Homo sapiens: one gene and its partner. The protein of the gene in region 2 interacts with the protein of the main gene of each other region in a pairwise test. Each region holds a gene or a part of one and is shown on either strand. Other genes may lie near its edges.

Region 1 (3,658 bases), on a different chromosome or scaffold from region 2:
CCAGGTATACCGGCAATTTAAGCACCTGTTGCTGGCTCTCCTGATTTTGGTCAGGGTAATTGAATCATGTGACAAACAGGAACTCTTGAAGGCACTGCAGGTTTGGACTAAGATACAAAATAAAATCAAGTAAATAAGCTTTATTTTAAGTAAACAACAGCAATAACAATAATAAAACTGCCTGAGAATTCAAAAGAAGGGCCTGGCACAGTGACTACTCACACCTGTAATCACACACTTTGGAGGCCAAGGCAGGAGGATTACTTGAGGCCAAGTGTTTGAGACCAGCCTAGGCAACACAGTGAGACCTCATATGTACAAAAAAATTAAAAAAAATAGCCAGATGTGGTGGCATGCACCTGTAGTACCAGCTACTCAGGAGGCTGAGGCAGTTGAATCATTCTATCCCAGAAGTTCGGGGTTATAGTGAGCTGATTGCACCTCTGCACTCCAGCCTGGGCAACAGAGTGAGACTCAGTCTTAAGAAAGAAAAGAAAGAGAATTCAAAAGAAATGTTAAACTTAATTGATTTCTAGGAAAAACTGAATGGTATTAATGGTAGCCTAAATAGGCTTTCATTATTAGTTTGAAAATGATTGTTGATTTGACTTAGACATATTAAGAGTATTGTTACTCATTTCTTGTGCATAGGTTGTGAGCAACTATTGCATAGTAAAATTTTTCTTACATTTTAAAAATCTATTCAGTTCCTAATTGTAATCCCTTTTAGACTGGAGAATATAATTTTTTTTTACATGATTAGAACAGTTTTGATAAATGAACTGAAAAGTGCTAATATGTGTGTGGCTACTCTGTCCAGACTGAGGGAGCTTCTTTCTCAGATTGTTCAGGCTACCTAATCAGGTCTATTGAATAATAACAGGTCTAGAAGTTGGCAGATTGAACAGATACACAGTCCCTTAGGACAAAAGGAATGGAACTAGAGATGACAGCTACAAAATTTTAGAAAAGGAGGTGATGACTGAGTGTGGTGGCAGACACCGCAGACCCAAGAAGCTGAAGCTTATGGTGAAGCCTTGAAGAAAATTCATTTGCCCCCACCAAACCCCAGAAAGGCTCAGAAATTGGGTACCAGGTACCTCAAAGAGTAGAAAATAAATGTGAAACTATAAGCAGGAAACTTTATGGGAAGTTTGTTTAAGAAGGAACTATAGTCCTGGATTGCTTCTTCCACCCTGATAGAAGTCCTGAGACGTAATTCTGGAAAAGATGAACTTCTGAAAATACCAGGAAGAACAGAGGTTTAAAAAGTAGGGGATATAAAAGAAAGTCTCCCTCCCTATAAATATGTATATATGTATATAGATAGATATACATATATGTATATGTTCTCTTTAATATATATAACTTCTTTTAATACTTGACTGTTTTAATCTTTGAGATTCTTGTCTGAGGAATCTGAATAGCCCACATGTAAAAATTGAAAGACACTGATCATGATGGATTCCCCCAACAGAATGTCCTGGACAGTGAAACCAACTAGTAAATAAGTATTCTTCAGACACAGAGATTCTAGTTAATATTTTGTTTGTTTATTTTGTGTTTTTGTGTCTGCACTTTTAAATATAAACTGATAGTCAGTAGTCTCCAGATATTTGAAAAAAATCCTCCTGAATATATTCTAGATTAGATTGAGACCAATACAAACGAAAGATAAAAAGGATGTTGGAGAAAACTGACAAGATAGAGAGGAGAAATTTTCAAAAAATTATTATTGTTAATATTCTGAAAGATGGGGACAAAAAAGTGTCAATAATATAAAAATAACATACTACAAAAAGAGGAATATTCAGAGAACATAATTGTTGGAAAATCTCTCAAAAAGTAAAGCAAAAGGTAAGAGAAGGAAAACAGGATAGGCAACATTAGGAAACCAGTGATTCTGTCCAGGAGGGCTGATCTTCAGAAAATCAAGAGTTCTAAAAATGAAAGGATGAACACACAAATAAATGTAACAGAAAAAAGCAATGGGCAAAAAGAACAGAAATAAGGAAGGAAAGAGAAGAATGGGGTGTGAAAATTATTTTGTTTTCAAATTCAAAAATATCTAGAACTATAAGACCTGAGTTGTTAGACTGAAAAAGCCTAAAAATTTCCCAGCGAAATGGATAGATGAGACTGGTCCCAGTAAAAGTCATCATGATATTACAGACTACTGAAAACAAATAGAAGATTCCAAAAATGAAAAAAAATAGAAATACCATGTTGCATCCAAAGGATAAGAAATCAGAAAGACTGATAATTGCTCAATATATATACTGGAAGTCAGAAGATTATAGAGCAATGCCTTCAAAGTCCTGCGTAAAAATGACTACTTACCTAGAATTCTTTACAAGCAGCCATTCAAGTGTATAGGTGGCAAAAAAAGACATTTTCAGGCACATAAGGACTGACAAAAACTTACCTCCCAAATGCTCTTTATCAGATAGCTACTGAAACCAAATGTGTGCTACCACTGTAATTAATTTCTAGAATCTTAGATCTATCCAGAAAGGCCAACGATAAAATTACATAGCGTTTGAGATACAGGCCTACTTAGCAGCCTGTCAAAGGAGCGTTGCTAAAGTCAGAATGGCCTCTTTTACAAAGCAGATAGACTACTTTGATATATTTTCTGTCAATTGCTAGTGTAGTTGTTATCAGTATCATCTTCTTTCTGTTACTTCCTTTCTAGTTATATGAATATGTATGCATATGTATATGTATGTATGTGTGTATATATATTTCCTGTTCTTTTCTTTTCTTCCAGGTCTACCAAAAGCAGCTGTGATTAGTCAGCTGCAGGTTTTAAGGGGTTCTGCTGTCCTGTGGGCTTTTGGTTGTACTGCTCATGACATTGTTTATATAACCCTTCCTCTGTATCATAGTTCAGCAGCTATCCTGGGAATTTCTGGATGTGTTGAGTTGGGTAAGGCTTTATTTTCTTTTTGATAAGTTTTCAAAATGTCTAATAATTAGAACAAGTATTTATTAACATTTGAAGCTGTATCGGTAGAATTTAGAGTGATTATATGCATATTATTTTATTATAACACAATATTTATTTTAAAAAAACTACACAATTTTATGGCATATTCAGTGTTTTCCTGAGGTGAAAAGAACAGTTTTCTGAGGATTTGGCCATGTGGTCGGAGCTGGCTATTGGCTGGGCTTCTCTCTCCTTGTAGTCACTCACCCTCAAACAAACTACCCCAGATTCCTCAAATGTAGTAGAAATGTTCCAAGGGAGTGAGTATGGAAGCTGCATAAATCTTAAGGCCTAGTCTTGAAAGACACATAGGTTATTTTACCTTCATTCCATTGATCAAAGTAAGTCATGGGCCAGCCTAGATTCAAGATTCCAGGGCTGGAGAAACAGAAGCCACCTCTTGAAGGGAGAAGGAGCAAATTTACACTGCAAAAGTAAGAGCCCTGAAGAAATTGCTGAGGCCATCTTTGCGAACAGTCTGCCATAGACACTCAATAAATTAGTTGGTAGAGCTTGTGACTCAGTAGATTCCATTCATAAACATGCAAGATTATGTGTCAGTTTCTAGACCTCACATAATATACAAACAGTGGAGATCATTTGCTACTTGTATTTGTCTAAAATGCTGTAATTTTTAGAATAGAATATTTAGAATATGATCAATATCCA
Region 2 (3,658 bases):
TACTAAAAATACAAAAATTAGCTGGGCGTGGTGGCGCATGCCTGTAATCCCAGCTACTCGGGAGGCTGAGGCAGGAGAATCACTTGAATCAGGGAGTCAGAGGTTGCAGTGAGCCGAGACCGTGCCACTGCACTCCAGCCTGGGCGACAGAGCAAGACTGCATCTCACAAACAAAAAAAAGTAGGTTGGAAGTGAAACTTCATATAGTCTGTTGAAAACAACTACCCTTATGCTATGAACCTTGAGTATGTGGGGTTAATAGATTAATCCAAAATATTAGTCAGTAATGAGAATGTGAGCCAAGGCTTTTTCTAGAACTGGTGAGTACAGTGTTTCATTCTACCTAGTCCAATATTTCTGAAGCCTTAGAACAGTTTCCCAAATTTGACTCACCTGCCTATCACATTTAAAATTTTACCATATATGAGTGCTACCTGTGCACATTTTTATTTAATCATTTTCTTTAAATAAAATCTTAAGTATGCACCCATAAAAAAGAACAAGATCATGTCCTTTGCAGAGGCATGGATGGAGCTGGAGACCATTATCCTTAGCAAACTAACATAAGAACAGAAAACCAAATACCACATGTTCTCACTCATAAGTGGGAGCTAAATGATGAGAACACATAGACACATAGAGGGGAACAACACACACTGGGGCCTTTCCGAGGGTGGAGGGTGGGAGGACAGAGAGGATCAGGAAAAATAACTATGAGTACTAGGCTTAATACCTTGGTGATGAAATAATCTGCACAACAAACTCCCAAGACACGGGTTTATCTGTATAACAAACCTGCACTTGTACCCCTGAACTTAAAAAAAAGTTAAAAAAAAGTAAATTTATTTTAAATAGAAACTTTTATAATTACTTTATATTGAAAACTTTTCATTTCTTATCTGCATTTAAGTAAATATACTATTTAAATGTGTACCATTATTAAAATGATTATGCACAGTGGTATGTAGACTGTGGTGTGCTGATGAACTGGCTCCTAGAAAAAAGAGCCCTGATTTGTAGCATTTTTAAATTTCTGTGGTTTAAATACTCTACCTTCACTGAATTTTTTTATTATTATTAATTAAATTTTTATTTTTCTTTTGAGACAAGTCTTGCTCTGTCGTCCAGGCTAGGGCACAATGGTGCAATTGGCTCACTGCAGTCTCGACCCCTTAGGCTCAGGTGATCCTCCCATCTCAGCCTCTCGAGTAGCTGGGACTATAGGTGCACACCACCATGCCCAGATAATTTTTGTATTGTAGATATGGGGTCTTGCCACATTGCCCAGGCTGGTCTCAAACTCCTGCGCTCAAGTGATCTCCCCACCTCGGCCTCCCAAAATGCCAAGATTATAGGCACGAGCCACTGCACCTGGCCCTACCTTCACTAATTTCAGGCTGCCAGTGGATTAACAATCTGACTTGCAGAATTCTTGAGTGTTTAATAATTGGCCTTTGTAAGCCAGTACAAGCTAGGTCCAGCATGCCACTGCATGTATACTACATTTTGGGAAACTCTGCGTTAGAGATACCTGTTCAAAATTCACATCAGTTTTATTTATTTCAGCCTTTGACATGGTTCATGATCCAATGGCAGCTCTGGAGACCCTCTTAACCTTGGGATTTGAACGCGTGTTGACCAGTGGATGTGACAGTTCAGCATTAGAAGGGCTACCCCTAATAAAGCGACTCATTGAGCAGGTACGTGGACTTTATCTTTTTTTCCCCTAAGACTCTGTTGTGGTTACTCCTGACATTCTGCTGTTTAGCCAGTTTGTGAGACTATATATTACTGACTTTGTGGTTACTCTGTAGGAAAAGCAAGCAGGCAATAATGTATATAATTCTTATTTCTTTCACACAAGCCTTTTTAATAACCAAGGCTTTCAAGATCAAATTACATATAGATAGTGCCTAAAGATCTGATCTAACTTGGATAAGCACAGCAAATTTTACCTTTTCTCTGCCATGGGCATTGCAGTTTTTTTTACTTTTTATTTTTATTTTTTAGTTTAGATATAAGGTCTTGCTGTGTTGCCCAGGCTGGTCTCGAACTCTTGGGCTCAAGCCATCTGCCTTCCTTGCCCTCCCAGAGTGCTGGGATTACAGGCATGAGGCACTGCGCCCAGCCAGCATTGCAGTTTTAAGCCACATCTTTTCATTGTCAGCCCATGTATATTCAGGGGATCCCATATAAAATTATCATCTGGAGGTAAATTCCAAAACTAAAATTATAATCTTATTTCTTCTCATCTGTCAATATAAGAGGAAATATATTTTTCTATTTTATGAGTTTTCCTGGTGAGCTAGCATCATTTGTAGAGCACTCAGAAGGTGACTTTGTAATTAATAGTATGTGTATTTTTCTGATGTCAGTCCAGAGGCATTATAAGTTAGTGAGTACAGACTTTGAGATGAGAGAGTTGAGCGTTTGAGACTCGGGTTTGATACTTGCTATGTGATGTTGAGCAGGTTAATAGTCTTTAAGCCTCTCTTTCCCCCTGTGTGAAACTGAGATGAGTTTAATACTTATTTTAGAGTTTCTCAGAAGATTGCTAAAGATGGGATGTGTTAGAGGCTTAGCACAGTGGTTGGCATATACTAGGTCTTAATAATGTTAGGTTCTGTTATTACTGCTATTATTAATAATACTAATGTTCCTGTGTAGACATCTGCTTATTTTCACTTTTCTATAGCCATGAAAATAATTTTCAGAAATTTCTCCTAAAGATCTGATGTGACTTTGCTATTCTGGGATGTAATGGTTTCACAGACATTTATTAAATATATATTAGATGCAGGACATTTGTACTGTGGGGGTAACCAAGGGCTAAGTGTCTGTGTGTAGTCACTATCCTTACAATTTAGTGCAGAACAGGCACTTCTAATAGAGCAGGCAATTTTAATAGAGCTCTATTTTTAAAAGGTACTATAGGAGTACATTGGAGAGGAATTAACCCCAAATTTGGGGAAATGAAGGTTGGCAATAATTAGAGGAAGCTTCCCAGAAGAAAAGACATCCAGACTGCAGTGTTTTACTCATTTGAAGGATGTTTGGGAGTTATCTGTGTAAAAGTTGGGGGCAGTGGGAGTGAGGGTGAAGGGGATGTTGGTGGAATTGTTCCATACAAAACAAATAGTATAAGCAAGGGCTATAAACAAAAGCAAGCATAACTTAAAACACTGAGGAATGGCCAGAATATTGAATGTGGACAGAATGATATCCAGAGCCTTGAAAACCTTATTAAAGTATTTATTTTCATGGTGCAGCGGGGAGGCCTAAAGTGTTTTAAAATAGAAGAGTTGATGAGTCAGGTTTCCAGTTTTAAAAGGTTACTCAGTAAGGAGTAGCAAATAAGATATAACCGCCATAGTAATGTATTGCATTTCAAAATGTGTATGTGTGTGTGTATGTCTGTTATTTGTATGTTAATCTATTGGTTAGTAGGAAGAGCTACTCAAATATTCTCATACATTAACTTCACTGAAGTAACTACCTAGTAGTGTAACATACTAGTTAAAGCATAGGCTTTGTGATTGGACAGGTCTGTGTTTAAACCCTGGCTTTGACCCTTACTAATAGTGACCATGGATACATTACCTAGCCATCCTAAACCTCAGCTTTGCTCTTCTGCAAAGTTAGGATAATAATAGCACCT

The links. The genes of interacting proteins can lie anywhere in the genome.
Region 1: the proteins of CUTC (region 2) and SLC27A6 interact in a two-hybrid assay, tested with the Homo sapiens proteins (one large-scale study listed by BioGRID).

The regions. Positions count from the first base shown.
Region 1 is NC_000005.10:128,985,830-128,989,487, forward strand, and holds part of SLC27A6 (long-chain fatty acid transport protein 6), read left to right. Parts: intron 1-2,770; coding exon 2,771-2,929; intron 2,930-3,658. UniProt on the Homo sapiens protein: Mediates the import of long-chain fatty acids (LCFA) into the cell by facilitating their transport at the plasma membrane.
Region 2 is NC_000010.11:99,745,691-99,749,348, forward strand, and holds part of CUTC (copper homeostasis protein cutC homolog), read left to right. Parts: intron 1-1,566; coding exon 1,567-1,700; intron 1,701-3,658. UniProt on the Homo sapiens protein: May play a role in copper homeostasis. Can bind one Cu(1+) per subunit.